4 separate regions of the Homo sapiens genome follow, and regions 1, 2 and 4 are each linked to region 3. Evidence: fine-mapped expression QTL. A gene starts in region 3. Each other region holds a variant in brackets. All regions are shown on one strand. Distances are between the middles of the regions.

Region 1 (8,388 bases), 620 kb before region 3:
GAGTTCCCTGACCCCTTGCACTTCCCAGGTGAGGAACCGCCCCACCCTGCTTTGGCTCACCCTCCGTGGGCTGCACCCACTGTCTAATCAGTCCCAATGAGATGAGCCAGGTATTTTAGTTGGAAATGCAGAAATCACCCGCCTTCTGCATTGATCTTGCTGGGAGCCACACACTGGAGCTGTTTTTATTGGGCCATCTTGCCCAAGAGTTTTAAATACATTTTCATGGTGGTAGAGCATGTTTCCAAAAATGGTCACATCAATAGTGCTCCTCACCTATGTGCCCCTTTGTAATGTGACCCTGTCATTCTCTCATCAAGAGTCAGAATTTGTTCCCCCATTCTTATATCTGGTCTACCCTATTATTGCCTAATTTGATCAACAGAATATAGTAGAAAGGGCATTAAGCAACTTTCATGTCTGAGCCTTAAGAGGTCTACAGCCTTGGTCTTCACTTCTTAGAACACTCCTTCTTAGAACCCAGGTGCCATTGCTGTGAGGAGATCAAAATACCACATACCACATACGACAACCAGGTGGAGAAAAATGGAGGCCCCCTGACTGACAATCATTAGTAGCAACTGCCAGCCATGTGAATGAGGTGATTCTGGAGCTCTTAGCCATCCTACTGCTGATAAGAAGAACCCCCCGACTAATCTACATAATCATGACAAATAATTGCTGGTCATTCGAACTCACTAATGTTTGGATAGTTTGTTTTACAGCAATAGACAACCAAAACAATCTTACTTAATTTTGACAACAATCCCATGAAGGTACACATTTACCTTTATTGCACAGATAAGCAACTAGAAATCAGAGAGGTTAAGCAACTTATCCAATGTCACACTGCTCCTGTGTGGCAGAGTTGGGATGAATGTCAGTCAGCTATTAAATCTGAATGACTGAGTAATTTGTAAGACCAGTAACCAAAACAAATCTGTAAAGAGAAGGAGTAATTTAGAGAAAAATCAGACAACTTGTTGATGCCATTTTTTATAACACCAGAATTGTAAACAAAGCACAGTAAACTGATAAAGGCTAAGATGAAATTATCCAACAAATGCAGTACAGACATTTTCTCAGGAAACAGAGGCAGCCTGCCAACCAACTGTTTTACTGACTTGAGGGCTTTAGTCTTCTTTAGAGAGGAGTAATTTTGTAAGATAGTTTCATAGACTGAAGTCAGACAAGAGCATTTTGCAATAGATTAGCTCTTCCAGTTCCCTACTCCTAAGCCATTAGGAGTAAGCCCTTCCTTCCTTTCTTTCCTTCCCTTCCTTCCTTCCTTTCATTCCTTCCCTTCCTTCCTTCCTCTTTCCTTCCCTCTTTTTTCCTTCTCCCTTCCTTATTTCCTTCTTTCCTTCCTTCCCTTATTTTTTCTTTCTTTCCTTCCTTCTTTCCTTCCCTTATTTCTTTTCTTCCTTCCTTCTATTCTCTTCTTTTCTTTAGAGTGAGTATGAACTAAGAGCCTGTCCCTATCCTAGGTTCTGATGCTATAGTGATGAATGACTTCACTCCTATTGCCAAGGGATGCATTGTACAGTAAAGTTAACGAGGGATGGTGGGGATAAAACATGTAATCACAATCAGAGAAATAAATACTAGATAGTGTATATAGAGAGCTGTGGCAGGGGACACTGAGAGTTACCCCCTCAATCTCAGCAAAAAATGGGAAGAGGGGTAAAAAGATAAGACTCCCCAAAAAAGGTGATGATTAAGTTGAGTCCTGAAGCATGAGGAGAAATTCATCTAATGAAGAAGAAAGGAACCAAGACTGTATACAAAGGCCTGATCTAGAGAGAATAGATGGTCCTTTAACAATAAATTCTGTTATAGTCTTGTTGGAATGCCACATTGCATTGATATTGGAATGAGGGTGGGGGGACAGACATGGTGAACCTGAGGAAGGGAAAATGAGGCCAGAACATTAGATGGTTTTCATGCTATGCTCCACTGCCTTTCTTTTACAGAAAAAATGAAGCCTTTGAATAAAGGTTTTAAGTAAGAAAGGGACATGATCTCTTTGCCTGTCAGAAAGATCATGCTGGATGCATTGTGAAAATAGATTGAACAGGGCTAAACTACAGGCAAGACATCAGTTAGGAAGCTATACTTGCAGTAAGAGAAATTAGGAAGTTACCAATGATAAGAAAAGCTAATGAGGAAGAAGGTGTTGGTGAAAAAAAAGAGGGGTTGCCAGATTCAAGAAATAAAAAGGAGCTAGAATAAGGAGACTTGATGAATCAGCAGATATGATTTGCTTTTCTATTTAAAAGTTGGCCGCAAACCAAAAATCTATAATGAATTAATAAAATTCACTCAGTTCTATTCAGAATTATCTTTTAGAATGGTATATTCTGTGTAATAAGGAATATAATAATTTCTAAAATACACTAAGCACTTATAGGCACAACAACACAGGTTTTACGTGAATTTTCTCCGTCTTTCCAACAACCCTATAAGGCAGGTACAGTTATCACACTTTACAGATAAAAAAGTGTAGCGGTATCAACCATAACACTCATATTTTGGTTGATTCAACAAACATGTATTCCATGCATTATGTACCAGCCATTATGTTACAGACTACAAAGGACAAGGAAAGAAAACACGTGGAGCTTACCCTAGAGATGTTCATATCTAAGTGAGAGCATCTAACAGTGGAAATGAAAAATTTTACTATGGTGTACTAGGTGTCACTGCAGCAGTCTGGTCCAAGAATTGCAATGGGATTCTGAAAATGACCATCTTTAACAGATAGAGAAATTTTAACTGAAGTGTATCATAAACCCCCATTGCTAAATAGAAGCCAACAACTGGGCCACTGTCTTTTGTTAAGCTGATTGTGCCATAAATAAATCCTTGTCATCATAAAAAAGAGTGGTACGAGTGGATAGTATGGGTTAAAGTAAGATCAGTTAGCGTGGCATTGGAGGTGCAGGGGGCCATCTGGCTAAAATCCGCCCCTTGCTCCACTTGAAAAGAACATGCCTTTGGTGCACGTCTAGATCAGCCCAGAGGTGGGCACCATTTGGGCTAGTGGCAGCCCTGGACAGTGACATGTCTAATGGCCAGTAAAGTGACTATCAGGGTCATTTTATACATAGACTCTTTCCTGTTTGCCTTATTCTTCAAGAAAGACTTCTAGATAGGGTTTCAGGTAGTCACTTTCTTTTCAGACTAAATCCTCTCAAACTAGCTTTCAGTTGTCCAAATCCTGGCCCTGACTTTATGCCCAATTAGGAAAGGTTAGACCAAGGTAATATGATTAAGGCAGAGCCTGGTGGAAACTGTAAGAAACTTTCTATGGTCTAAGTGTCTTTAACTTGTGACCTATTAACCAGGCAGAGATCCAAAGGTAATAGGCGAGACACACATTTCCACAATGTAGAATTCATTATTTTTCTCTGTCTCATTTCTATCTACAGGCCTTTCCTACTGATAAAACTACTGTAAGTTTTTACAGTCATTGTGTTTTTAATTTCCTAATTAAGTAACAATTTCCAAGCACCAATAAAGTTATTTTAGTTTGTCTCCCAACTATAACTTTAAAAAATACTACAAATAAAATAGGATAAAGTGACAGTAAACATTTAGCTCAGTGCTTTTTGTTTTCTTTTGTTTTGTTTTATACACACATTCTTTCTTTGAAAGATTGAAAGTAAACCGTAAAAGACTGTGAAACACTGACCAAAGAGTTTACAATCGATAGTTCTCTGTTTCGCAAAATGTTGTGGGTCTAGTGCCTGTTAACTGGGGTTTTGACCTCTACACTCTTGAGTCCAGCTGGAAGAATTCAAGAATCCCCTTTCCAGAAGAGCTGCAGTGCCTAAAAATGTTCATGTGTGAAACAGAACACTGGAGAAAATTCCTAACGTAAAGGTCATAAATAAGACCATAGGAAAGATGGGCTATCTAGGAAGGAGTGGAAGCATTCTATGTCAGCTCTGCTGTATGTTGTCCTATTTATTAGAAAAGTTACAATGTATATTTTTTAGGCAAAGTTTATTGCACTAATTAACTCATTAACGACCTCTAGAGAGAAGCCAGGCTTCTCTGCAGGCTGGTTTGCTGAATGTTAATGACCAAGATAAAGAGAAAATCAGTGTGCCAAGCTCTGGGAAAGCCCCAGGACTCCACAAACAGCTCTGATTTATTCAGTATATAATATCGTAGAGAAGGGAGAATTGTGGACTAAAATAGATAAGAATGTCCTCAATTCATTTAGATAAAATTGTCCTCAATTTAAACAAAAAATTTTTATGGCATTTCAATTTAATGGGAAAAAAATCAGTTTTGGTTCACACAGGCCCCCACCCTGCCCTGCTTGTGAATTAAAGGATAAGCTGGTTTCTTGTGGAGTCTGCAGTAGCTAAGCTGGCTAGGGTTTTTAAAGCAGAAAGAGTGGAGGTAACAAGTAGGACAGGACAGACTTTGAGGGATAGCTTAGCCTCCAAGGCACAGAACAATTAATTGACATTTCAAATGTGGTCTATGATGTTTTGAATGATGTCCAATGTGGTACCCTGGCCTCCAAGGTCTGCAGTGTGGACACTTTTGTTGTCCAAGGATGCCAAGACTGCAGTATTAATGTGGGTGGCATAGGAGTGGAGTTTGAGGTAATCCAGCATGATACAAATTGCCAGCAGCATGGCGGTAGGGTTTGCCAGATTTGTATTGACTAAATTGTCACATTGCCTTGAAGCTGTCTCAAACACTGCATACATATAGACATAGTTGGCTCCAGGCACAAGGCCTGCCCCACCAATCAAACCTGTGCAGACACTGTTGATAACATTGCCATAAAGACTGAGCATTACCATGACATCAAACTGTTGGGGCTGGGATAC[T/G]CACTGCATTGTGGCATTCTCCACAATCATGTCTTCTAAGGTGAGCTGAGGATAGCGGGATGCCACCTCCCCCACAGCACTGGAGGAAGAGACCATCTCCCAGTTTCGTGATGTTGACCTTGTGCACAGCCATCACTTTTTTGCATCCCATCTTCTGGGCCAGCTGGAAGGCATATTCAGCAATGCACAAAGACTTGGCCTTAGTCATGATCTTTAGGCTCTCTGTCACTCCTTTCACACTCTCATGCTCCAGATTGCTATACTCACCCTCTGTGTTTTCCCAAACAACTAGGATGTCTACATCTTTGTGCCAGGTCTCCACGTTTGGCAAATTTTTTAAATGAATGACACTGGCATAGAGATCTAGGGTGGTATGCAACATGTTGTTGAAGGATTTGTATGATGGTGGCAGGGTGTCGTCAGTTTTAACGCTACTCTTCAAAGCCACACGGTTTCAATGAACTGCCATGATGGCATTATGAATTTCCTCTTCATGTGAGGCAGAGGTGGAGGTCACTGACATTCCCTCAAAGTCCACAGGCACACACACATGTCTGAACATAATCTTGACAGGCAGCATAAGTTCAGTCCCAGTGCCATCTCCAGGAATCATAGTCACTGTGTGCTGCCCACCACACTTCGCTGATGGAGGAATTGTGTGAGAAAAAGAGAAGCTTCTCAGGGGGATCTCACAGCCAAGTAAAATATCCCAGGAGTAGCCAAGAATGGTAGGTTGGAAAATTGCCTTCACAGAGCCACTGGCTACTGTCAGCATCTTCAATACCAAAATCATGAAGTTGAGATCTATTCAATTGTGTGAAAAGCTGTGCTCTTTCTCTGGCTTTGAACTAGCTTCCTTGGGTGGAATTCTGGACCCATGATTCTTGCTTGGGTCATAATTCTCTCTCCTTCCTTGTGTTCTATTTCACAGACATTCTACTTTGTGAGAGAGATAGCTAGACAGATGATGTAATGTGTTATATAGTAGAAAATACAACTATTTTGGATCTAGATAATAATTCACTAGACAAATTCAGTGTGTGAAACTCTGTATCACATGCTTTTAAAAACACAGACTTTATTTTTAGAGCAGTGTTAGGGTCACAGCGAAATTGAGTGGAGGGTACAAACATGTCCTGTTTTCTCTTGGTCCAAAATAAGCACAACCTCTTCCACTACCAAAATCCCACACGAGAGTGCTCAATTTGTTCTATCTTATTTTTTAATTTTTTAAAAAATATTTATTTTTAATTTTTGTGGGTACAATAGTGTGTGTATGTATTTATAGATTGCTATGAGACATTTCGATACAGGCATGCAATGCATAATAATCACATGAGGGTAAATGGGATATCCATCACCTCAAACATTTATCTTTTATATATAATCCAACTACACTCATTTAGTTATTTAAAAATGTACACAAATTATTATTGACTACAGTCACTCTGTTGTGCTAGTGAATACTAGGTCTTATTCATTCTTTCTAGTTTTTGTACCCATTAACCATCCCCACCTCCCCCACACTCCCCCACTATCCTTCCCAGCTTCTTTCACTATCCTTTACTTTCTATCTCCATGAGTCCAATTATTTGAATTTTTAGCTCCCACAAATAAGTAAGAACATACACAATTTGTCATTCTGTGCCTGGCTTATTTCACTTAACATAATGACCTCCAGTTCTATTCATGTTGTTGCAAATGATAGGATCTCATTCTTTTTTATGGCTGAATAGTACTCCATTGTGTATAAGTACCTCATTTTCTTTGTCTATTCATTTCTTTATGGACACTTACATTGCTTCAATATCTTGGCTATTGTGACTAGTGCTGAGACAAACATGAGAGTACACATATATTTTCTATGCACTGATTTCCTTTCTTTCAGGTATATACCTAGCAGTGGGATTGCTAGATGCTATGGTGGCTCTATTTTCAGTTTTCTGAGGAACTTCCAAACTGTTCTCCATAGTGGTCAGATTAATTTACATTCCCACCAACAGTGTTGGGTGTTCCCTTTTCTCTACACCCTTGCCGGCATCTTATTGCTGATCTTTTGCATATAAGCCTTTTTTTTTTTTTTTTTTTTGAGACAGAGTCTCACTGTGTTGCCCCTGCTGGAGTGCATGGTATGATGTCAGCTCACTACAACCTCCACCTCTCAAGCTCAAGCGATTCCCGTGCCTCAGCCTAAACGCTGTTTCTATTAAAACCACAAAAATTAGCCAGGTGTGGTGGTATATAAGTCATTTTAACTGGCCTGAGATTATATCTTATTGTAGTTTTGATTTGCATTTCTCTGATGATCAGTGATGAACACCTTTTCATATGCTTGTTTGCCATTTGTATGTCTTCTTTTGAGAAACGTCTATTCAGATCTTTTGCTCATTTTTAATTAGATTGTTAGATTTTTTTTTCCTATAGAGTTGTTTGAGATCCTTATATATTCTGGTTATTAATCTCTTGTCAGATAGATAGTTGGCAAAATATTTTCTCCCATCTGTAGGTTGTCTTTCACTTTGTGGACTATTTCCTTTGCTGTGAAGAAGCTTTTTAACTTAATGTGATCCCATTTGCCCACTTTTGCTTTTGTTGTCTATGCGTGTAAATTATTACACAAGAAGAATTTTTGCCCAGGCAAATATCCAGGAGACTTCCTCTGATGTTTTTGTGTAGTAGTTTCATAGTTTGAGGTCTTAGATTTAAGTCTAATCCATTTTTATTTATTTTTGTATATGACGAGAGATAGGCATCTCCTAGATGTAGCACCTTAATGGTCTTAGATGAGATCCGGAAGAATTATCTGGATTACCATGCAGAGACTCTTCTTCTCTTTCCTTACTTTCTCCCAAACAAATGGAGTCTCTCTCTCTCTCTGGATCTGGGGGTGGAGTGACACAAGTACCCCTGTGGCTACCACCACTGGAACTATGCTGGGTCAGTCCTTAAGCCATCAAAGCACTGGGCCTTGTCCAAGGTCTGCTGTAACCACTAACTGGCTACCCCCTAAGTTCACTCAAGGCCCTGGGTCTACAATCTGTGGATAGTGAAGCCAGCCAGGCTTGCATCCTTCTCTTCAGGGAAGCAAGTTCCTCCAGGCCCTGGTTGGGTACAGAGGTGCCATCCAGGAGCCAGGGACTGGAGTCAGAAACCTTAGAAGTCTACCTGGTATTCTATTGTATTGCAATTGAACTGGCACTCAAATCATAAGACACAGTCCCTCCAACCCTTCCCTCCCGTTTCCACAGGCAGAGGAGCCTCACCTCACAGCCACTATTACCATAAGCCTCTTTAGTCAGCAGGTGAAGGGTCTTTCTAAGACTGGGTCCTTACCTTCATGGCAGCAGGTTCCCTTCTGGCTCGGGGGGTGTCCAGAAATGATGTTCAGGAGCTGGGGCATGGCAAGGGGGCCTTATGACTCTGACTGTGACTGGTGCCTATCCTACTGTGACTGAGCTGGTATCCAAGATGGAAGACAAAGTCCTCCCCACTCTTCCCTCTCCTCAAGCAGAAGAAAGGGGTCTCCTTGGGAACT
Region 2 (8,388 bases), 730 kb before region 3:
TTTAAAGTGGTATACAATCATAGAGTAGTTCACCAATAATGCATAGTATACAGAAATAATCTTTTATATTTGCATACACATCCCATCTATAGATCCTAAACTAGTTAGTAATGCTACATTAAAGTAGCTAGGAGGAAAAATCGACTTTCCCAGGTCAGGGTGTCAGTAATGTTATTTTCTTGAGTTAACATCAGCGTTCTTATCAACTTCCATTATCAACATCATCATTATCTTCCATCAGCAGCATCGCCGTTATTTTCCATCATCGGTATCATAGCTTTCACAAATGAGAGATGTATTGCACAGTAAAAGACAGTAGAGTACAGGCTCTGCAGCTAGATTGCTTAAATTCAAGCCCTAGGTCTGCCGTATTCCACCCATATAAACTTGGGTTAAATTACTTAGTCTCTCTTTGTTTTAGTTCCCTTATCTGTAAAATGGAGAAATTAGTAATATATGCTTAAATCAGCAAACACATGTGAAAGCACTTAAATCTGCATCTGGTATATAATGTTCAATACATTTTGGCTATTATTTTTATTTATATTTTAAAAAATTATTTAGCAATGATTCCCTAACTTGACAGGTGAAGAAGCTAAGAACCAAACATGTTATGAAAGTTGCTTAATGATACACATTAATGTTGAAATAACAATTCAAAGGTGTTCCTGTGTCTGGTCCTAAATCTTATGCATTTCTTGGCTACTTAATTTAAGCTAACACATTGCAATACCTAAATAGCAACTGAAGCGATTGTCAACCACCGACACAACTTGACAAAATGCCTAGATACTAGTAATGAACCCAAACACCCAATTCATTGCTTCCTCCCTACTCATCAGTCACAAAGTTGAATCTACTTGTAGATATACAACTGACCTTAAATTGATATTTTATATTCCATTACCATATTCCATTACCACCCTTGTAATGCTTTATTTTCCTTGGCCCTTTGCAGCTAAACGTCAAGAGAAGTGTTTGGAGATACAGTGGGTTACATCTGCTGAGCTCGTCTAATATTTTTTTTTTCTTTCTTCAGAAGAGACATGGCTGTTCTTACCACCAAAAGACAAATCTGAATATTGTAACAACCATTCTGAGTACTGTCACTAACTGCCACTGAATAACTGGATTACCTGGGAATTGTTAGTTTCAATTAGTTCTATGAAAATCATTGACTGGCTTTAAATTCACTTAAAAGTGTAAAGAACTGGAAGCAAAGAGAAATAGGGAAATGGCCACATGAGGCAGGAATGGAATAGAAATAACCTTTTAAATCAGGAAGATATTAATATGAAGTAAAAACAAAAGTAGATTTTTAAGCATTATACAAAGGAACTTAAAATTCAATTCTGTTCAGAGGCCATTTACTGAGCATCTGCCAGACATTGTAAAGACCAGCTGATCATTGGTAGGAACAGAATCTCTGTTCTAATGAGATCTTGTGCTCCTTCTAACTGCCCTCCTCACTCAAACTCTCTGAGGTCTTATCTGGGCCCTTGCTTTTTTGCCTGGGAAGAGTCTACTTTGATCCTCCTCCTGACTTCATTCTTTCCAAACCTAATTTATGCTCCCTCTTGGATCTTTTTTCTCACCAAGACAAAAGTGTCTACTCCCATGGCTCCAGAAACTTTCTATAAAGCTGGACTCATGCACATTTATGAATCACCCAACAGAAGAGCTGACGGAGTGAATCACACAAGGTTTTCAGATTGCCAGAATAGGAGGAACAATACGTGTCATATTTTTTAATGAACATTTAAAGATACAGAGAGCCTCAGGGGACACACTTTGTACCAACGTTCAGAGAATGATGCTTGGAACTATGGTGCCCATCTATAAAGCCACCTATGGGCATGCCAGTGGAGGACACCACCCTCAGGTGAGTAAGCCAAAAAGTCCTTTATTTTCACTAGTATAATCTCGTTCATAAATTAAAAATGGTTTATGATTCATTAACAAAGTTAAAAAATACAGGTTGATTCTTGGTAATTGCAAATACATATTTTAAATTTATATAATATATAAATATACTATTTTTAATATGTAGATCTTAGTTCATTTAGCCTGATATAACAAAATATCGTAGACTAGGTAGCTTATTTCTCACAATTCTGGCGACAGAAGAGTCCAAGATCAAGGTTCAAGCAGATTCGGTATCTGGTGAGAGCTTTGTCTTCTCACTCTAACCTCACATGGTGGAAGGAAAAGAAGTCTCCCTTGGGCCTCTAATATAAGGGCAGTTGTCACAATTTCAAAGGTCTTTTTAGAAAGGCACTAATCATATCCAAAAGTGACCTATTCACTTCCCAGAGGCCTTATCTTCTAGTACTATCCCTTTGAGGGTGAAAATTTAAACACATACATTTTAGGGAAACATAAACATTCAAACCATATCAAGGTATAATTTTAAATGATTTAAAATGTGATAGAGCACACATGGCTATAAAACCTATTTGTGTAATTATAAAATATTTAATATAGATACATGTTTGTGATATAATTTATATGTGTTTTATATGACTTAAAATAATACAATATGTATTTTTCACTGACAAAAATTTAGAAGTGTACGTACACGGAAATACTAGGTGGAAGTAAATAGAGTAATATACATATTTCCTCTTTTAGTATAAAGACTGAGTAATTTTAATTTTCTTTTTTGCTTTTCCATATTTTCCCATTTTTTACAATAAAAATATACTACTTTTTAAATTAATTTTTTAAATGACAAAAATCAATGGAAGCTTTAAGAGGTACCAAAAAATTATGAATCTATTCATGCCTGATGCTCAGTCTTCACATGTTATATATTAATATGCTAATTATTTAAAGAACAATAAATCATTGATGTACTTTGCATGGCAATAAAAAGTTAGCATAGTCTTTACAGCTATATGATTCCTCGTGTGTCTTATAAAATGCTACAGCCCTGGAAAGAAGAGAACTTTTTGTAAAGAAAGTGATACATTAAAAACTTACTACAAACATAGTTAAGAAGAAACTTTTGACACATTATTTCATGATAGAAAGATGATAATGTCCTCAACTCTGCTACTATTTAATATTTTTCTCATATATACTCCTTAAAATCATCAGGGAAAAGATAGGAACTCATCCCTCTACATCTGATGTTAATACAAATAAGTACAATCCCACCTAGCTTTCAAACCAAATTAGTCAGCTTTACCACAGTGTTACGTACAGTCTCATGCTGCAATTTTTTTTTTATGGCATTCTCTCTGTCTGGAATGTCACTTCTCCAGTTTGAGTTAGATATGTCTAAATCATTCCTTAATGTTCCGTACACATGCCTTTCATTCATGACAATTTTCCTGATCCTTTCTCCAATCCTCAGAAACAGAAGCAATACTTTTTCTAAAACCCTACCAAAGATCTAAACCTCTCATACAGAGTTTATCACTTTTAAATCATGCATTAATAATTATTTATGTGCCTCTCTTATCTCCCCTAATGCTCCTAATATGCACTTGTTTTAAATTATCTTTGTACTTGGCAAGTACTCAGAAACCATTGACGTGACAAACGAATACATGTGGGTTCTGCAATTCATAAATGGCCCTGTGGCCAGATCTTGTATTTCCTTAGTCCTTCCTTTATCAATCTTCTGTCTTGCTGAGATAAAACCTGTGTCTGCTCTTGTGTCTAGCATTCTGAAACCATTTGTTATTCACTAAATTAACCATAGATTCTTTTATATTTTTTGCCACGAGTTTCCTGAGCTTCAACATATTATTTTATATGTGAATGAATTAAGAAATCATATAAATGTGGGTGAATTCAGTTGCTGGCACTGGAAAATTAGAAAATGCTTGCCTTCAAAGCTCCTGTCCTACGAGATTAGTGCCCTGTAGATTTTTTACTTTAGGAGAAAGGTAACAATGTAAGTGATGAGCAAGTTCACAGGGTATGGTTTACTCAATTATTGATGCTTTGATGACAAGGCATTGGGGCAAAAATTCATTTATTTGATGAAGGAAGTTCCATTGCCAGGTATATAGAAGTGAAAACTGCCTCAGCCAGAAGTTGCAACCACTTGCTACTGGAATTGAAGAAGGTATTGACATTTTAAGTCTGCATGAATTGACTTGGTCTCTCTAGGTTACATGTCATCCCAGCTAATGTTGATCTTTTTTTGTTTTTTTGTTTGTTTTATTTTTCTAATCAATAAATTCTCACACTTGGTTGATTTTTTTTGGATTGATGTTGCTTTTTTGTT[G/A]TTTTTTTCAGGCTCCATCTTTGAGACACAATCGAGGAGTTTTTTTCAGAGAGGCCAATGTAATTTCCACTGATGTCAAAAAGTAGAATTATGCTTTTAATATTTAATGTTTCTCAAGGTTCTACACTCTGTGGCATAACTTGTGTTATTTCCTGTATACTAGTAAATAATAGAGAAATTACTATTACTAGAATAATAGAAGCGATTCCACTGTATCATGAAGAAATTTCTTTATGATCACCAATGCCATTTTAGTGGGTGAAGTGAGCCTTGGAAACTGAATCATTTAAACAGAAGTTAGAAATATTTCTTAAGTCTTTTGCCCCAGGGACCAAAACAGGACTTTCTTTCCATGTGTTTTATTTGGCCAAATATAGATGTAAAAGTTAGAAGAAACTTGTTATGAGTTCTCTAAAATCATTTCATAATCTGCTTGATCTCTCCCAGAAGGGATACTTGACTTTCCTAAATGTGATTAAGTTTCAGTTCAAACCACCTCACCTTATTACAAACACAGAATTCTTCTTAACTCAGGATCTCATTTGGAGAAGCTTGAGAAATTCTGACTAGTTTCAAAGAGAGGGCAGATATGGTGAGGCTAAAGCTGTCAGTCACCCCAGGCAGCTCTTCTCAGTATTAATCTTCTAGATTTCTCCTTCCTAACTTGTTGCTTTCCAATACAGCTGTCCTTTTTAATCATTTTTCTATTTCTTAATGGTTTTCTGTACACTTTTCATAGGTAATTTGTCCATGCTAGCTATTAACAAATAGAACTGTGAAATTTACTTTCAGTCTCTCAAATCCATTTAATATCCCTTGTATATACCTCTCCAAGATATCCTCATCAATCTAAACAATCACATACTATCTGAGTCCCACTACAATTGGTAGCCTATTAACCTACATATAAGAAACTAGTGATTCTGGCTCCTTCTGGGTAGGAGAACTTGTAGCTCGTGGACAAATATAAAGATTTTCAATGTATATCCTTAACTAAGCTTATAGAATATCTGAATATTCTAGCATGCATAAGTGTTAACTCTTGAAGATGTTAATATTTAAATTTTAAAACATGATGACTCAGGATTCTACCCTTAGTGACACTAGTAGAGACTGACATTATGAAATTATGTAATTTCAGCTATGTGTTTATTAGCTAATGTGTCTCCCTTCCAGAGACCCATCATCAATTAACCCAGATACAATACACACCTCCTTAAGATAATGTTTTTTTTGGAAACTGTAGACAACAAATTCTGTTCACATACTTTATATACAAGGACAATTCTGCTAATAAGAGCTGCATATAAAACATGCCTCTGGGTCCAGTCTGTCTTGGACAAGCCCCTAGAACTCTAAAGAATGGAACACACACACACACGGCCATATATATACACACATATATAGGGCTATATACATACATATATATGTATACATTTATGTGTATATATACCTTACATGAGTTCTGTATATATTATTTATGGTAATATTCTATGAGAGATACTATAACATAGCTGGGGAAAATAAACATATAAATCTTAGAAGCAGGCTCCCTGGGTTTGAATCCTACTGTCCTGTGCTTATTAGCACTTAAAGTTATGTAATTTTCTTACATTTTCTAGGTTTCAGGATTTTTTAAATAGCAAATTGGAGATAAGAATAATGTCTAATCCTATAGGATGAGTGTAAGAAGTAAAGGAGTTAACTTATGTGAAGTACTTGGAGCCATCCTGGCACAGGCAATATACTCAGTAAGTGATTGACCTTTTGCCTATGTGTGCCCTTGCGTATATCTGATTTCCGTTTCTAATAATTACCATTATAACTTCATCCAGTCTGCTCTACTGCCCCCAGGCCTTGGTAGAATTCTAACTACTGATCACATTTTCAAAATTAAAGAAGCTCTTCCAATACCCAGACCTGAGAGGACTTCCCATAGTCAAAGGTACTACCAGAAAAGGATATAAAAGTACCTGCCAATCTTCTCAACCACCTAGCACGTTAACACTAACCACCCATATTTAAAAGTGGAAGTCAACTATTTCATAGTCAGTCATCTTTCAAAAGTTCCCCTCATGCTCTACTGCTCTACCCATCATTTCCCAATCTTAATCTCAGGATATATTAGAGTATTTTCATGAGTTTCTAATCTATCTACTGTACTAGAAAATAAGCACATCTGAGAGTTAGAGCAATGCTTTCCTGTCTTTTTAACACTAGCCAAATGCAGGTCACTAAATCCCTGTTTTTTGACTATTAGGCACAGAACAAATACATTATAAAGTACATTTTATTTAAAAATAACTTTATTTCTATAGTCAGAAAGCTTTGCTCTTATCTAAATAAATTGCTCATCAGCCACAGAATTTTTTTTAGCTTTACTGTTTTCTATTCAGCGTTGTTTGCAGTTTAACTACTTTTTTCATTGAACAAAGTGTATTTAATTGTAATTACCCTTCCCAAATTTAATTTTGCTCTTCTGTGCCCACAGCTATCAAAGCTTTTGACCCCCTGGTCTTTCTACACTATTTCTCAGTTCTCCCTGGTATTTGTAACTTCCACAAAGGACCATCTGCAGATTTAATTAACTTGTTGAATTCTCTTTCCAGATCATTAATGAAGTTGTTAAATAAGACTGATCTCAGAGCTCATCTCTGTGGCATCTTGATGGTCCTTCAACCCCAATTATGCACTATATTTCCCTTTACCATTTCCCATTTCCCCTTATTTACATTCCATTGGTCGTATTTTAAACCATTGAAAGCTCACGTCCAAATCACTTGAAATTATATTTCACATAAAATTTCATGTGAAATAGCTCTTGCTTAAAAAAAAAAAAATTCTGACTTAACTATCTTTAGTGGAATGGCAGTTTATAGTCCCAATTTCCCATAACATCCTGCAAATTTAAAAGAATAATTCAAACATTTAATATCTTAAATAATGCTCTATTGGTCTTTGAAATTAGATAAATACTCTACTTCCAAAGGGGAAATGTCTATCTTTGCAGAAAGTCTCTGTTGATAAATTTTTGTAAAGAGTAAATGTCATGCAGTATAAAATAAAATTGTATTCATTCCATTAACCTTTTTTCTTTGAAAGTGGATGACATTTTATATCATATGACTATCTTTATGGTCAGTTATATTATTATTGTATATAAGTTATCACAATGACCAGGACTTCTTGTGACTTTTTATCTATGGGAAAGAAACAGTTTCAGAACTAAGGGGCTAGCTTTTGGTTAAAGATACTGGCTTAAATAATCATATTTACCCCTACTTTTCCCCTCAAACTCTAACGAGATAATACTAAAGACAAATTATAAAGGATATAAACCCTCTTGGGTAAAGCACACAGGAGAAATGATAAAAGTAACATAATTTTGGAATCTAGAAAAGAGGTGGATGAATGATAACTCACTTAGAAGACAGGAGAAAATGACTCATAGCCTGGAGTGGAGAAAGCCAAGAAGCAACTTATTGCATAGGACTCAGTAATTGGTGGCATCAAGTATCTCTGAAACTATGGGGAACAGTGAAGCTAAAATAGGAAAATTAATTGGAAGCTAGATTAAAAAGCAGTTAGATTCCTCAGAGCTGTTTCCTTACCCCAGCCAGGCTACTGCCTTTCTTTTGCCCCAGCAAACACTAGAGATTTAGTCTCAGCAGAGGGTACCACAAAGGTCAGAACATAGTTGAGAGCAGAAATACTATACTGAGACAGGGGTATTAATTAAAAATTTACAAACTGAATTTTACAATCTTTTGTCTTATTCTTCCGACCTGACTCTCAGAATGCTAGCAATCAAGTTTAATTGCTCCAGAAATTTAATTAATTTATAGGATTGATTTCTAGGAAACAGAAAGACTCTTCCCTACAAGATCTGAATGGTTCAAAAGAATGAACCTAAAATCATTGACATCAGCATCCCACATAGGTAAACTGAGCTTTAAATCAACTTTTCATAAGTGGCACTCTGAAAAATCAGCAGATAACCAAGGACTACTGAATGTTTAAGAAAAGGTGAAGATAAGGGAAAAATGCATGCACCTGTATGTAGTCCCAGTTTCTCCAGAGGTTGAGGTGAGAAGATCACGTGAGCCCGGCTGCAGTGAGCCATTACTGCATTACCGCACTCCAGACTG
Region 3 (8,388 bases):
AAATCCTCCTGGGTCTGGCTGACTTTAAATTTACTCCTGCTCATTGTCCATGGTGGAAGCTGTTTTCCTCTGGACCATGCAGACTAAAAAAATGCTCCAAGAGCTCATTTAACCACAGAATTTCACAACCACTTAATCAGGTTTGGGCCCCTGGGCACCTACGAAGGTCCTTAATACCCCAAAAGCAATTTTCTTGAAGAATATGCTCTATGCCTGTTCCAAGCTGGCCAGTATTTTCCATGATCCTTGGAGGCTGGGGGCTCATGTTCACAGTTCCATTATTCAATTCATAATTAATGATCCACCTGAGAGTTCCTTCCAAAAGAAAATCTCTTGGCCAGGCGCAGTGGCTCACACCTGTAATCTCAGCACTTTGGGAAGCCGAGGCGGGCAGATCACCTGAGGTCAGGAGTTCGAGACCAGCCTGACCAATATGAAGAAACTCCATCTCTACTAAAAATACAAAATTAGCTAGGCGTGGTGGTGCATGCCTGTAATCCCAGCTACTCGGGGGGGGGGGGGGGGGCTGAGGCAGGAGAATCACTTAAACCCAGGAGGCAGAGGTTGTGGTGAGCCGAGATCATGTCGCTGCACTCCAGCCTGGGCAACAAGAGCAAAACTCCATCTCAAAAAAAAAAAAAAAAATTCTCTCCTTTCCAGCAGGTGGCAGCAAAAGACATTCACTTGGTCAGTAGGGGCTTTGCAGGTGTAGGTACTCCCTTCACCCTCTGCCCTGGTGACCAAAACAAACTGGAAAGCAATGTGGGAATAATTATTGAGTTTTCAATTATTCACACTGCCAAAGCATTGGTGAAAACTCATAGAGATAGTGTGTTATTACTGCTATTATTGTAGCCTTCTAAATTTTCATTATTAGTGATGTACCTGAAAATCTCTGAATTATTTCTCAACCAGAAATAACAAGAACTGGAGAATGGCACCTCCCGTCTTGACTCCACTTTGCACTCTAAAACAAGTTCTCTGAACAAGGCAGATTTAAGCAGCTCCTCATGACACCTATCATTAGATCTTTTCATATGCAACTGTGTCTGCACTGCAGTCTTGCTTTAATTAAAATGTGCCTGATATCATCTACTCAGTTCCATTAAAAGCCGGTGATATCTGAGCAGCTCACTAAGTGAACCACATGTTTATTTCATCTAGGACTGTTAACAGCCCAGACAACAATTGTCCCACTTGACAAAGAAACTTTCAACGCAGCTGTTTGGATGCTGATAATCACAAGCCAGCCTTTGTTACCTAAGAAGAGGGTGGATGGATGATGTGGAAATGATTTCTGCACAGAATCAGAGGGCTGCCTCCAGAAAGCTACCGCTTATACCCTCTCAAGCTACAAGATACTTTAAGTGTACAAATTGAGAGGTAATTCCCCCGTCTCTCTGATTCTTCCGATAATGTGTGTAGAAGAAATATGCGGCCTCTAGTGTTCAAATAGTGCCAAGTGACATTGAGAACCCAAGCTCCCTAGGCAACAGCCACAACCAGTGGGTCAGATCCTTCCATGCTTCCCTGCCTTTGCTGAATCTGCTCCCTCTGCCAAGAATGCCTTCCCACTTTGTCCACCTGGAAAACTCCCTAGAAAGCCTTGAAGGTACATCTCTCAAATCCCTGACCACCACTCCTCCCTAGAATTAATTCAAACTGTCTCTCCTCCACATTTCCTTAATACAAACTTATACTCCTACCTCTCCACCACCCCCCCCATCAATCTGTAAAATTAAAATGCCTGCCAGTTTCTATCTAGATTCCCAGCTGAGCTTTAAGTTCCTAGAAGTCAAGGACTGTCATTTCCTCTTTGCATAAGAAATCCTGGCACCCAGCAAGACATCGTTTGTTGAATGAGTAAAGACATGAATGAATCTTCCCCTACAACGAAATTTTTACAAGATTTAAAGGGGATTGGAAGTGGAAAGAGGGAAAATACCTGTTCTTAAAGACCCCTTCCACAAGCAATGAACCCTGAAACACGTTCCATTCCGTGATAAGGGTACTTTGGCGACTTTTCAAAGGAGTAATGAGAACAAAGGATTTAGGCATATTCCGTAGTGATGTGCACTTAGGGATGTGAACTCACTAACGGGTTGCCCCCTCCCTACCTAGCTTCTTCCTGTCTGCGGTTCCTCTGTAAGATGTCCACGAGCACCAGACTCTCGCGCTCAGAGCCAGTAGCCCACGCTCTGCACTAGTCTTGCCTGTCCTGATCTTCCTGGGGTGCGCGCACTCCTTCAGCGTGTCCTGGTTTTAAAAGACTAACCCATCCGGATGGGCCTGAACTCAAGAAGCAACTATTCTAAGCTAGACTGAGCCTTGGCGTCTCCGCAGCCTGGGAAGCTCGGATAGAGGTAAGGAACGGAATGGGAGGTTTCTTTTGTCCCTTGAGAAATCCATATTCAACATTCTTAACCAGACGAAAGCCGCTGCCTGCTCAGTCCTGGGGAAGTGGGAAGGGCCCTCTGAAAGCTCCTAGACGCTAGATCTTCCAGCGGGCTAACTGCCAAAGAGGGGCGCCTGGGCGCAAGCGGAGGGAACTTTTGAGCCAACCAAGTGCAGACGCCCCTTCTTAGCCCTCTCCAGATGAACTTGCTCTTTGGCCTAGAGAGAAGGCCACGCCTCTAAAGAAGGAAATAAGGATGGTAAAGGGGGGAGAATAAAGGGAAAGGGAATGACCACACAGATTCTGGGGTGCAGCGCGTACGGAGGATGGCTGGGTAGGATTGCAAACCTCCGACACTCCCCCCAGTTGACAGGCCCTATTTTTGCCAATTTCCTACATCTCACCCCACCTCACCTCACCCCAGTCTCCCCGCATCTACTACTAGCTCTTTGAAGAAGGCGGCTGCAAGCCAGTCTCCGAACCCCAGGGGACTTTTGGGCAAGGGAGCCGGTGGAAGCAGAAGGAAGAAGATGCGCTGAGAGTCCTCACAACTGCGTCTCCGGAGGCAGAACGAAGTGGGGACTTCAGACAATCAAGCGTCATCCTTGCTCCCCCCTCCCCACACGGAACCCTGCGATTATGGCAAGAGAAAACTGGTTTGAGCTTGAGAAAATTTCCCCAGATTGTCTCCACTGCTCTATTTCCCTCAGATAATTGTTCGCCCAGCCCTTGGGAGCAAAGACAGGCGGAGGAGAATACTCCTGGAGTTCTCCTGGGTAGTCAGGAAGGCACAGGAGGAGATCGCGGGATCCCAGGGTTCTCCCGCAGCTCTCTGCCCTCGCCGCACCGCGCCCTCCCGGGCCCCGGCCGCGCCCGCCAGCCGGAAGCGCTCCCTCTGCGGGTGCGACTCCCGCAGCTACCCCTTCCCAGCCTGGCGGGGGTCGGCGAGAGTGGTTTCCACAGCACCTTACAAGTTCGGGAACTCGGGGCACGCGGGCCCGCCCTGCTGCGGGTTTCGACTCCCTGGGACGGAAAGCCGGTTACTAGCAGCAAGAGGGTGCGCCTACTCGGCCGCGCCCCTCACTCCTGCGCCCCTGAGGCCGGGTCCCCTGAGAAGGGGCACTCAACGGGGACATCTTCAAGCCCGTGAGTCCCTATTTTCACCCTGTCACTCCGAGCAGGGCAAAGAGATCCCAGGAACCGGTCCACGCTACCGCCGTTCCCCAGACCAGCGCAAAGCTCGGCTCCAGGTCTCCCCACGCCGCCGTGGTCTGTGGGCACCCCCATTTCCCGGATCCCTCTAACCGCCACAGTCATGCTTACCTGTCCTGGCAGTGCACACACAGAACCACACAACTAAAATCAAATCCATCGGCATCGCTCTCGAGGGTCCCCGCCTAGCAGGGGGCACCGAAGCTAGGTGGAAGCAAATGAGCCTGGATCCTGAGGCGCGCCTGGCTTGGAGCCGCCAAACTTGCTAGCGGGCGGCGGGGGAGGTGGCTCGGCAGCGCCGGGTGCTGCGCTCGCATATGCGCCCGGGAAGGCAGCCCCGGCCGCCCCGCCCCCAGCCCGCCCCCCACCGCTGGCGCGGCGGCGGCGGCGTGGGGCTCGGGGCCCGGCCCCCCGCTGCGGCTGCGTTCGTCTGGGAGCCCGGGCAGGAGCGCGGGGTTTGGCTACTGTGGCTTGTTGCGCTCCCCACTGGGGGCCGATTCCGTTCGCCTCCTTCGCCCGCAGAACTGCGAGGATCTGGACTGCAGGCGCCGCAGCCGCTATCACCCGGAGCACCGAAGTCGGAGTCCCAGGACCTGCGGCCGAAACGAGAGAGCGGGAGGCGCACGGCGCCCCCACGGCTTCACGCGCTCCAGCCCCTCCGAGCCGCAGTCGCCAATGTTGCCCTCTTTACTTCCGCACCGCGGTGGGGGCTGCCGAAGTTGCCACAGTTCATCCCCGCCGAGTCGAAAAGCCGCCGAGCCCTCGCGGGTGGGTATTTTTCCTCGGGGGAACCCAGACCGAGGCGGCGCCACCGAGCGCGCACGGACCCCCTCGGAAAACAATTACTCGGGATTCGCTCTGTCAACTGGGTGGGGAGGGACCTGAGGGGGATGATGGCTGAGTCCCTGCTCACCGCCTGTACCTTCTGTCTCCTCTCTCCTGTTGAACCCCTATGACTGAGTACTCTCTTTGTGGGTGCAGGAAGAGGGCGCTGAGGTGGGGGTGCAGAAAAGGGGTCCTCGAGGCGGAGCGAGCTGTGGTTGGGGTTTGGGAAGTCTATTTGCAAACCTTCTCATTCTGCAGGGCAGATGCTGCCACATAGGGGTAATTCCTAACCATCTTTTTTTCTTTCTTGCGTGATTTTCTTAATGGTATTATCAAAAGCCCACTCTTCTTTCATAGTCACATTTTGGCCCCATGTGCAATTCCTCCGGGACCTCCACCTTCTTTTCCCTCTCCCACCACAACATTCTCTGGAGAGAAAAGCTGGGCTGGGCTTTGTTTTCTACTTGCCGGCAAGAAGAGAATGGGTCCTCTCCCCTCTATGCGACCCTTTCAGGACCTGACCTTCCCTATGAAGATCCCCCAAATTTAAGACTTCTGTCCCACTTCCTATTTGTCCTACTAACACCTAGGAACGTTATTTATAACTGGATATGTAGAGTCATGAAATCTGAAATGACAGCCTCTGATTTATACCAAATGAACTCCACTTAGCTTGCTCAGTCTTCCCACTCTCTCTGAAGCCCCCGCTCCCCCTCACCAGCAGTACTCCTTTGATATTCACAACAGGGATCCCAGAGGAGTCCAAGGAAACCTCAGAACAGCCGTCCCTCGTTTCCTGGAAACCAATTCCAACGTTTCAGAATCCTCTTCACTAATAAGAACGTGCCCTTCTCACTTGCACCCACTTTCACTTCCTATATCCTTAACCCCTACACAACTTTGACCCCAGGAGCCCCAGTGAAGTTCACCAAATCAGCGCAGCTTATTAAGAGAGAAGGCTTTACTAGCATGCTGTTCTGGTCTCTGCCCTATTTTTCTGGATATTTCTGTGTGCAAGCCACTGTCCCATTTGGCCCTTTATGTTGTGGTCCTTTGGCAGATGAAAAAGAAAGTGAACAAGCAGGTAAATTCCAGCTCAAGAAGTCTACTGCACAATCCAGAAGTTGAGCTGAATGATTAAGAGGTAAACTGATGTCAGCTGACTCCAACTCAGATTCGGCTAAGACCCAAAGGAAATCTGTCTGCCTTGACTCTGTATTTTCACTAACAGAGTCCACGTGTTTTTCCTTCCACCCGGAGCGTGTTGCATTTAAAGCTAACATTAAAATCACACATCTTGAAGAGAATAGGATTTCCCAAGTCTTGTTGGGCCTTGTGGACAAGGACACCATACACCATGTTGTATTATAAGAGCCATTTCCTGTCTCTCCTCTGCAGTCTTTAAGTACACCTCAGCAGGAACAGCCTTGAGTTGCTTTGGACTGTTGTTTCCAAGGCCCTTTTATTGATTTCAGAAAGCCCAGAATCCTTAAAAGTACAGTGACCCCAGCAAGGGGAAAAGGTGGTCTGGGTAAGATCTTCAGAGCTCTCTATCTTTAAAGTCTCTGTGTAATTAGCTGGTCCTGTGGGATGGGACTTTTAGCTTGTTCCATTAAAAAATAAAGCAAGACATATGTTCTGTCATAGCTTTGCAGCATAACATCCATTAACAGTAACAAGAGTTAATCTCAACAAGGTCATAAATCTTTTCTAGATAACTAAGTACTGCAATCTCCTCCTATAAGTGCAACCCTTGAGTGGGGATTTTGAGTGTGTAGGTCTGTTAAGCTAAGGTGACCTTCATAGAATGGGCCCAGCAAGTTTCTCTAGTGACAATGAAGGGACACATGGCTATGTATGTACTTGGTGGTGGAATGTTACAGTGAGACCTGTGTTCGGTGGAAGCCACACTGAAACATCTTACCTGATGCCAGATCCCAAGTCCACCCTCCCCTTCAGGATGGCCTACCTCCATGGGTTCTTCAGGAGCCAGTAGTTGTCTTTGATTATCCCTCTGCCTCTTCTTCCTGACCTCTAAATGTTGGAGAGCCCCAGGACTCACTCCTCAACCCTTCCCTTCCCGCCACACTCCCTCCCTATTAAGCTCATCCCACCTCATGGATTTAAATATCTGTGCAGGGATGACTCTCAAATATGCATCTCTATCCCCAGCCTCTATTTTGAACCCCAGGCCTACATCTCTAACTACCTATTAGACATCTTGAATATAATATGGCCACATCATCAAAATTAAAAACATTTGCACTTCAAAGTACACCATCAATGAAGTAAAAAAAACAACCGATGGAAAAGTATCTTTGCAAGACATATCTGATTGGAACTTGTATCTACTAAAAAACTATTACAACTAGATAATACAAGACAATAAAAGGTCCAATTTGCAAATAGGCAAAAGATCTGAATAGATATTACTCCAAAGTATATATACAAGCGGCCAATAAAGACATGAGAAGATGTTCGACATCATTAGCCATCTGGGAAATGCAAGTCAAAACTACAGTGAGATATCACTTCACATCCACTAGGACGGCTAGAATAAAATAGATAATAAATGTTGGTGAGGATGTGGAGAAATTGGAACTCATATACTGCTAGTTAGAATGTAAAGTGTTCTTTAAACAGTTAAACATAGAGTTGCTGTACAGCAACTCTATCCCTAATATCCACACAAGGTAAATGAAAACATATGTCCATATACTAACTTGTACATAAATGTTTAGAGCATTATTCAAAATAGCCAAAAAGTAGGAACAACCTAAATGTCCATTGACAAATAAGTGGATAAATAAAATGTGGTATGCCTATATAATGGAATATTATTCAGCAATAAAAAGACATGAAGCATTGACACATACTACAACATTGACCTTGAAAACCTCACACTAAGTGAAAAAAAGCCTGTCACAAGGGACCATATATTATACAATTTCATTTCTATGAAAAGTCAGGAGGCAAATATATAGAGACAAAACATCTGATTAGTGGTTGTCTAGGGCTTGGGGCCAGGGAGGTAGGATTAGGGGGTAATGGCTCAAAAGTGTAGGGGCTATTTTTGAGGTAATGAAAAGGCTCTAAATTTGATTGTGGTGATGGATGTAAAACTCTCACATATATTCACAATATAGTAAAAACCATTGAATTGTATACTTTAAATGGGTGGATTGTATGGTATGTGAATTATATCTCAAGCTGTTTTTTAAAATACTTTAATGATCATGACAAAAAATTGTAATATGGCCAACTAAGGACTTTTGACTTTTCCCTTGTCTTAAATTTCCACTGCTGACTTCTACGGACATGGCATGAGCCTTCACCAAGTGCTCCAGCTACATAACCCAGGGTCATCCTTGACTTGCTTGCCCTTAGCCCCCACACACAAGGCATCAAGCCCTGTCAGTATACCTTAAAGAAAAATCCCCAGTCAAATTTCTCTTCTCACCAGGTCTCCTCCCACCTTCCTCCAACCCATCATTATCTCTCCCATAGCCTACAGCTATAGACTCTCAATGCTTCTCTCTGCCTCCATTCTTGCCCCGTATAATTCAGTCACCTCCACCTTCAGCAGTCATAGTCTGTGTTTTGTAACATGTATCATATCACACTCCCTTGCTCAAAACTCCTCCTGGAGTTTTCCATCATATTTTAGTAAAATCCAAACATCTTATATCACCCCTGCTTCTCCTCCCAGGTCCCTCTCTCCCCATTCTCCCCCTAACTCACTCCAGTGTTTCTTGTTCCTTAAACATTCCAAGTTCATACCATCCTCATGATCTTTGCACTTGCTGTCCCCTCTACCTGGAAGGTTCACTTTTCACTGACTCAAATCTCGTCTCAATGTCAGCTCTTTGAGGAGACCTTGCCTAAAGAAGCTTCTCACTTTACTCCCAACATTCTCTGCCTCCTTACCCTGCTTTATTTTTTAGAGTGCTTGTTAT
Region 4 (8,388 bases), 180 kb before region 3:
CATGCATTATACTTGTGATTTAACCACCTCAAAAAATACAAGGTTAAATAATATGTTGGTAAGTAGTTGTGGCGCTCTCTAGAAGGAAGATGCCATATCAACAGATTTCATTATGAAAAGTCTACACATATAAACAGATGCTCACATCCTGAAATTACTCTGAAATTTTAGATAGAAACCTTAAATTACTGACTCATTCATTGATTTGTAGCAAGTTTAGTTTTGGATTCTGCATGCTTTTCAAGATCAGTTGTATGCAAAAATTGGATGTGCTCTATGGATAATAAATAGCATGTGTTAAAAGTAAAAGATAAGTATGTTTAGTCTAGTCTAGACTAATCACTTGTTAACTCTCTGTCAAGGTGACAATCGGGCTGCAGATGTGTGTGTATGTGCCATACACATTTGAACAAGTCTGAAAAAATAAGAGCTAAGTTGAAATGTGATAGACTGCACTTAAGAGCTGAATTTTTCCAGCAATGAGGCATAAGGAGGTTAACACAGGGTAGGGATGCCGGCATATTACAAAAAGTGCTGGCCAAAGGCTGGGTGAATTAAAAGCCATCCATCTCTTAGCTGCTGAGGAGCTCAGCTCCACTGTCACTTCAGGACCAAGATGCTGGGAGTTCACTGTTTCCAGTTCTTTCCACTGTTCAGCTGCCATTGCGAGTTATCAAATCAGCCTGCTTACAGGGCTCCTGTCTGCATCCAGGCTTCCTCTGATACCCAGGGACTAGGCCCAATCACTGTGAGGGGCTCTGGTGGTTTCAGAACGAAGTTAAAATGACTAAATGAATAAGCCAAGAACTTCCTGGTGGCAAGGACTCTTATTTCCTTGTATCCTACACAGCCTGGCAGAGATAGTGTACCCAATAAATAAATTTGATGGGCTGAATGAAAATTAAAAGTTACAAATAAAGAGAAGGAAATAAAATTCATTTTGTTGTGAAAGGGAAAGGTTGCTTATGCACTGAATCCCAGATGTTGGTGGATTCTGTCCTTTGAGTAATAGAGACAGGCTGTAAAGTGAGCTGAGAAGGGAGAGGGTGAATCTAAGGAAGGTTTCTTCAGGTTCCATTCCAGGCTTTGTTGCCAACTCTTAATATAAAAGGTAGCCGGAGAAAAACCCAAGGCAATGGAGATAATCAGTCTCCCCACCCAACTGAATGGTTCCTTCTATGTTTCTAGCTTGAGGTAATCTGCTATCCACACATCAGGAACTTCTAACTAAGCCCAGCTAAACAGCTGAAACAAGGAGAAAAGTGTCTCCGTAGCAAGCAGAAAGTGTTGAACTACCAACTAAAATAGCGTTTGCTTTTCTTGTGACAATTTGTACAATTAGGTCTGAAAAAGCTGTTCCTCAATTCTGACCTAAAAAAATAATGTGCGAAATCCTGCCACATTAATATTCCTCAGAGCAATGGAATTATCTGGGAAATTTCTTCTCGATTTTAGAGTTCTCATGGTCCCTGAACCTTCTGTAGTATCTCTCCCTTGGGAAGACTCCCTGGTGTGGTTGTGACCTTGTCTTTGGCAGTACATGTCATTAGCACACTATGGAGGTGACCTGGAGGGTGGGTTAGACTAAGGTTTTGGAGATAGTTTCAGACTCAAAGTTTGGGTTATATGCTTATTATATTATGTGATTGACACCTAGTTATTTATCTTGAGCTTTTCTATTTCCAAATATGCAAAATGCATCTAGTAAAACTGTCCCCATATGGTTATCCTAAGGAATACTATTACTAGAACATTACCTGGCCTATAGTAGAGGCTCAATAAATGTATATCCCTTCTCCAGCACCAAAGTAAAGGGTTCCATCAATTAGATTTCACATCTTTCCAAGCAGCTCCCAGGATTAGCAATATAAGACATGTGGCAGGGAAATATTAGAAAGGAACAAACTGCTCACATTGAATCTTGGCCTTCCCTCATGTACCAAATAAAGTGTCAATGGTCCCCACTATTGGGCTAAATAGCTTAGTAGTAGCTAGATGCAGACACTCATAGGTCAAACTTGGGTCCAAATCCTGGTGCTGCCATTTATTAGTAGCAGGGTTACAGACAAATATATAACCTCAGTTTCCTCATCTTAAAAAGAGGAAAAACTAATAGAATGAGTATGGAATAAGTTAATCTATGTAAAGTACTCAGCACTGTGCCTAGCACAATCAACATCAAATGTTATCTAACATCATCTCCTTTCATACTCTAATCAGCAGAACACTACTGGGTGAGAGGTTGAGAAAAACTCTAAGAGTAACAGGGATCAAAAAATAAGAATCACAAAGTAGTAATGGATAGCTGAAATTCACTCTCTGTGAGGGTGGCTGAGACTAAAAGTGATAGAACCAGCATCTTGATATATGGGACAGAGCTTCTGCTACTGTAAAGTTGGCAAGTTCTGGCTGGGAAGAAACTTGTGAAGAAGGTAAAGTTTGTTTCGTGCATTAGACACTACCCTCTCCTTAATCCTTTTCTCCTTCTTACCCTCCTTCAGGTAACTGGTCTTCCACGACTTCATTTATTTGTTGTAGCCCAGCCTCTCCACCAAATTCCTTCCCCTCTTTCTAAACCAGTGGTTTGGAAATGCCAGTCCATTCACCAAGGGTAGACTGCCCGCATGGAACCTATATGGAGGGCTTGTTAAAAATATTGCTTCTCAGGTTCCGCCCTCGGGGAATCTAATCCAGTAGGTCAGAGGCAAAGCCTGGTTATCCATTTTTTTAATATGTTCCCCAGGTAATTCTTAGGTATAGTCAGATTTTGGAACCATGTTTCTAGCCTTTTCCTACATGAAAATCAAAATTTACTTTTCTTATGACCAGTCTTTGGGTCCATTTTTTCTCCTGACCTACCTGAAAAATGTATTTGTGTTTAGAGTCTACGAATCATTAACTAGCAGCAACTTCATAAGTTTTCCCTCCAAGATCTTACATAAAGGACATGTTATGCCACAAGCCAAAGTATGAAAAATATTAAGAAAACAGAAGGAATATTTGGAATACCCTCAGTCAATTCTTTATAAATGGCAATGACTCTAAAGAATACTGTGAACTACAGATCTCCTATCCTCTTCTCACTCTCCTGGTAGAGAGGTCATGGTTTCCATGAAGGACATACAGAGTATGAAAGTTTGAAGGCAGGGTCAAAGAGCTGCCATTGATATGCAGAGTAAATAACAACAACCACCACAAATGTAGACTGAGCACTGAAGGCCAAGCACCACCTAAGAACTGCTCCAGAGAGAAGAATGTCAGGAAACAGAGTAAAACTCTTAGAAGGAAGAAACAAAAAACTGCATAGCAAGAAAACAGCAGTATCTCCAGGACTCTTAAGTTGGAAATTACGAAACTAGGGTTTTGTGGCCTCTTTCTGTCCTGTGGCTTAGAAGGACAAGCAGGGCTCTTCCTCTGCAATCCCATTTAGACAGCATGTGGGTGGTAGGTCACAGTGGGTCATAGGAGTGTTGCCGGACAGGCCACTTTAATTCTAGAGAATTGAAGGGGGCAATGAGCTCTTGAAAGTGAAAATGGATATAGCAGCTAAGCATTGGCTTTATCCAGGCTGCCCAGCCCCAGTCTGCAGTGTACAAAGGAGCTAGTGGTTTCTATGGAAACTCTGTCCAGACATATTTATTATATCTGGTGGAAACCACAATTCTTCAGAAGTCTAAAAAGCACCTTAAATAGGTCATATCAAAATGGACCAAGACTCACCTCAAGATGGCAAACCTTCCCTTGAGCCTGACAACAGTTCCCTGCCCTTCCAACTCTTCTAAAAGAGACTGCAGAGCTAGAGTGGCAGGCATATTCAAGCATCTCCTCATGAGAAATGCGGTCTGAAGCTGACTGACCTTGGAATATCTCTCCTCTTGATGGTTTTTGGAAGGGAGGCTATCCCCAATATGCCTGTTCTTTATCCTGGGTTCAAGGGAGCAAGCCTTGTGTGGCTGAAAAGTCATTTTAACTTTGATGGCATCATTAATGAGAATCAACAATGCATGGGCACTGCTCAGAATGCAAAAAAAAACTCTGTAATTGGACTCGGGTCACTATCCATAAGGATCTTCAGTGGGTTATGGAGAGATAAAAACTTTCCCCTTGAACACCATTATCCAGCTGTCCAGCCATAAATGATCCAATAGAAACCAATGGACTCCCTCATTCTTCAATTTTCATTAAACCTGGCTCCAGTGACAGACAAGGGAGACAACATTTCCATCCCACCCCAACCCAAAACCTCCTGTGAAACCCCCTGGTCCCACCATCCCCTGACAAGCTGGAAGGCTCATTCCTCTGGAGAAAATACCTGGCATCAATTCCAAAAGGCTCAGAGAACAGCCTCTTTAAGAAGCCTCCATTTGGAAAAGATATTTAAGCAAAGGTGAGCTTGATGAAGTGAAATAGAATTAGCTGCTTCAGTGGCACAGGCTTCTCAGATTCATTCCAGGGTAGACAAGCTTATTCGCTTCCCAGTGGAACGAACTCAACAACAATACATCACCGTTAACTGTGATCACAGCTCCATGGAATTCCAGCCAGTGCCTGGAGCACACTGAGGTGCACTTACTATT[T/C]CCCAATCTGCAATCAACCTTTTGTACATTTGCTCCTAATCACGGGATACAGTTTCATCTTAATGAACTGTTTTCTTATCATATTACAGTTGGTCATTTCAGCATGCCTAAGGTCCCATTTGGTAGGTTAAATTACAATTAGGGTCCCTTGGTGTTTGTTTCCTGGCAAGTCTTGAAGGAATTTGATATTTTTTCCCCTTTTCCATTGCTTGATTTCAAGGGCAGAATCAGCAACACTCAAAGACAAAGAAATACCTGTTACAGTCGACATGGAGCAGGAGATGAGAGGCGCTAACTGACAGTGCAACCTTGTGCCATTGTCCATCTGCCATGCGGTAAGGAAGTGCCTCTGTCCTTGGCTTCCCATTGTGTATGTAGTGATACCGAATCTCATCCCTCAGGCCACTGCTCTCCAGTTCAAAATAGCTGTATGTAAAGGAACAAACATTTGTTTTATTTTAGTTCTGGATATCACAGCCATCATCAATCCCTCAACCCCTTACTACCAGGTCTCTCACAATCTAAAATTAGCTAAACATGGCACAAAGAGCCAAGACCTCAAGTCAATTCACTGTAGGACACCCAATGAATCTATTGTCTGAGAACCCTCGTGGCAACATCTTGAGCCTCTGAAACAGAGATCAATTGGTCCACCATGAGGTAACAAGCCACAGCTAATTAGCAAAACTCAGTGCAGTGTTTCTTAAATACTTCAAAGTACAAATCAGAACCCTCATTCCATGAATGTCTAAAACAGGCCATTCATGTGGAATGGATCTATTGATGGTTATTTTCAGAACTATTATCTTTACCTTTTCAAGAATTAAAGGGAAATGGAAGTCATGTTGGACATCAGGGATTGAAATACATTGTCAGAATGAAAAGATTAGTCTTTTTTCTTCTCTGTAGACAAAAAGATATAATTGAATAACAATTCCTAGATAATGAGTAGGGGAGAAAAGGTTGAAGCTAGTCACATAGGAATTAGTATTTCAAATTATCAGAGAATGAAATATGCAATTAAGTTTTTTCTTTTCCAGGATTATGATCCTGTTTTTCAAACCCATAAGAAATTCTTAGCCTTACCACTGTGGTCTGCACTTCAGTCATAAAATGCTACAAGCAACTTTGGGACACTCCTCAGGCACACAACAGGGCTAGTACTTTCACAGGTGCCAAAACTATTTTGTTTCCTATGCCTCTCTTCTGAAATGTGTCATTGTCATCAACGTTGGGCCTGATCTCACTGCCAGGGCTTGCACTAGGTATTTCACATATACTAATTTATCACTCAAAAAACCTGAGACTGGTATTATCTTTTTTAAAAAACTTAAAAACTGAGATTAAGGATTAAACATACCCAAACCAGACTTAAACTTAGATCTAAATTTGACAGTGTATGCACTTTCTGCCAGTTTGTTGCCCATCCCAGAGGCATGATGACAAAGTGGTGAGGATAGCCTCACCAGGCACTAACTCCAACAACTCATTCATATGGTCAACTCCAGAGCGATTAGCCTAGACAGGTAACTAGGCTTAACCCCTAGATTTGGAAGGGCCTGCTGCTTCTATTCTAATCCACTGAGCTGGCTAACCCCACAAGCCAAAGGGTATTTAATCTAAAAGACAAAATGCATCTTCTATGAGGAATGAAATGAATATATCAGGAAACTCAGCGTCTATTGTGCCTGAATCCCAAAAGTCATGCCAAAGAACAAATACATATTTCTTGCTCATCTTTCACAGATCTTTCCAAAGTAAACAGTGAAGGGCAAGCAGAGAGTCAAGACCAGCCTCTGACCCACCTCATTTGCACCAGTACAAAGAATCATGCCCAAGGTCATAAACTAAAAGAGGTTATTTATACCATAGCAGCCAGCTTCTAGGCCCAGGTTCATACTTATTAGTAATAATTTATGTAATACATACTTTATAAGACTGCACAAAAGGAAATGCTTTAACAAAGAAGACATTTATTTTAAGGGAATTCTCCAGTTTCTTCTAAGTTGTTAGAACACTGAAGAATCAAACAATCGGAGAACTTAGAGGTCAAGAAGATGTTACAGACTATTGGCCATTCATTAATTCATTCAATATGTCTTTACTGAACACATAATGAAAAACTAAAAAGGGGTTTAAAATATATATCCCATGTCTGAAGGTGCTTTGTGAACTAGTGAAGAAGGAAGTAAAATATGTCCCTCCCCACGGCCCCCCCAAAAAAAGGGTGAAAAATGGCCTAAAAGGAACAAATGAGGAGGCAAGAAAAGTCATTTAATGAATGATTGTCATGTGCCAGGAATATGGCAAGTGCTTTCATAGACATCATCTTTTTAATTTCTTTAAGGTAGATTTCATTATCCCTATTTTATAGATGATCAAAGATATTAAGTATCTTGCCCAAGACCATTTAGCACCTGTATAGAAATGCACCACGAGCTTATATTTGAGATCCTACCAGGATTCACACATCATGAGAAATCTCTCAATTACTTTACTTTGACCAATAAGCAATTACTTGGGGAAGGGACATGACCTTGAAAGGGCTTCAATCAATGACAATTAGAAATACTCACAGAAGTCACCTGCTGGAATCATTAAAGAGGGAGGCAAATACATTTAACCAGATTTCATCATTATTCTTGGGGTTGTGGCCTCATTGAGCAAGTGTTCAATGTATTATAAACAGATCTCTTAAAGATCACTTTATAAAGCACTGGAGTCAGTGATTACATTGGGGTAATCACAAATATATAGCTAGGAGAAAAGAAGTCTGTCCTAATGTCAGGCAAATGATACTTTTATCTTAGACTAAAGTTTCTGGCCACATCCTGCACATATTCAAAAAGTGCTGCATCTCATGCAACTTGGATGAAAATCAAGATGATATATTTTTGAAAACACATGTCAGATAACTGCTGAAGCAGCCTTAGCAATAATAAAAACACTGGATGGCTAAGTGACATCTGGATAAAATTCTTTCATGAGGGCTAGGAGGAAAATAAGGCAATATTTCCAGGCAGTAATGCTCTACAAATAAAGATGTGAGGCAACTCTGAGCAGAAAGTCATTTGGCCTGATGGGATTTGGCTGTAGCCTGGAGGGAAGACTCATGTTTTCTAGTAGAACCTTGTGACTCAGGGTGGTCTGTAGAACACCAATAGCAGCATCACCTGTGGAAATTCAGATTATTGGGATAACCCCAAGGTCTACTGCAGCAGAATCTGTATTCCAACAAAACTCCCAGATGATTCATGTTCTATGTTTACATCTGTGTTTAAGAAGCACTATAGTAGTATGCCAGGTGTTGCCTTACTTCCTGGCCAGCTGGTCTTGATGAAGGGAGCAGAAGTCTGACGCTACGAGCAAGTGAATAGGAGCCACGTGGCGCTGCCAGGTAGAAGGAGGACACTGGAAGTGACAGTAGGCTGATCTAGTGAGCAATCTACCCCTCACCAGTCCTCATTCTTCAGGACTCAGGTGTATTGGGGTCTTTTCAAGAGTCTCTGGGGAGGGCAGCTGTATAAATGATAAAATTATAAGCCAGATTTTGTAAGCAAAAGATTTTGCAAGCCCTTAGCCTTGGACCTCAGCCAAGTGTGTTGTTCCAACAAACTGCCTTCGCTCCCAGAAAAGTCTGCTCATCCTGCAAATATCGGAAAACAGCAGTGATATTCCCTCTTCTGTTTCAAGCCAAGCTTCCCTGGCTCCTTCCTTTATACTCCCATCTCCATCTAAACTATGAGCCCCTCCTGGACAAGGATTCTGCCTTCTTCCTCTTTGCAGCCTTCCCCATGTTGGTCACCATGCG

Direction of the effects. Alleles are on the strand shown, and positions count from the first base shown. SD is a standard deviation of normalised expression in the study named. Not every link is listed here.
In carriers of allele T in region 1, the expression in testis of the gene that starts at base 3,911 in region 3 tends to be higher than with G alone (small effect, 0.20 SD a copy in GTEx).

What was found. PIP is the estimated chance that this variant, and not a neighbour inherited with it, causes the effect.
Region 1: its variant is the best candidate, but not a certain one, in a credible set for the expression of NELL1 in testis (GTEx, PIP 0.59).
Region 2: its variant is the best candidate, but not a certain one, in a credible set for the expression of NELL1 in lung (TOPMed, PIP 0.77).
Region 4: its variant is the best candidate, but not a certain one, in a credible set for the expression of NELL1 in unexposed skin (GTEx, PIP 0.64).

Annotation. Positions count from the first base shown.
Region 1 is chr11:21,281,033-21,289,420 of GRCh38, reverse strand. The region is part of intron 14 of NELL1 (neural EGFL like 1); the gene reads right to left. It also overlaps the pseudogene LOC100631258. Among named protein-coding and RNA genes, the nearest start is that of NELL1-AS1, 23 kb to the right of the region's middle. The variant T/G (reference allele first, on the strand shown) is at 4,854.
Region 2 is chr11:21,391,687-21,400,074 of GRCh38, reverse strand. All of the region lies in intron 15 of NELL1 (neural EGFL like 1), which reads right to left. Among named protein-coding and RNA genes, the nearest start is that of NELL1-AS1, 130 kb to the right of the region's middle. The variant G/A (reference allele first, on the strand shown) is at 4,241.
Region 3 is chr11:20,665,109-20,673,496 of GRCh38, reverse strand. NELL1 (neural EGFL like 1) reads right to left here and starts at 3,911. Exons shown (of 20, transcript NM_006157.5): 1 at 3,719-3,911. The coding sequence starts at 3,773.
Region 4 is chr11:20,844,198-20,852,585 of GRCh38, reverse strand. NELL1 (neural EGFL like 1) reads right to left here. Exons shown (of 20, transcript NM_006157.5): 4 at 4,833-5,003. Among named protein-coding and RNA genes, the nearest start is that of NELL1, 180 kb to the right of the region's middle. The variant T/C (reference allele first, on the strand shown) is at 4,578.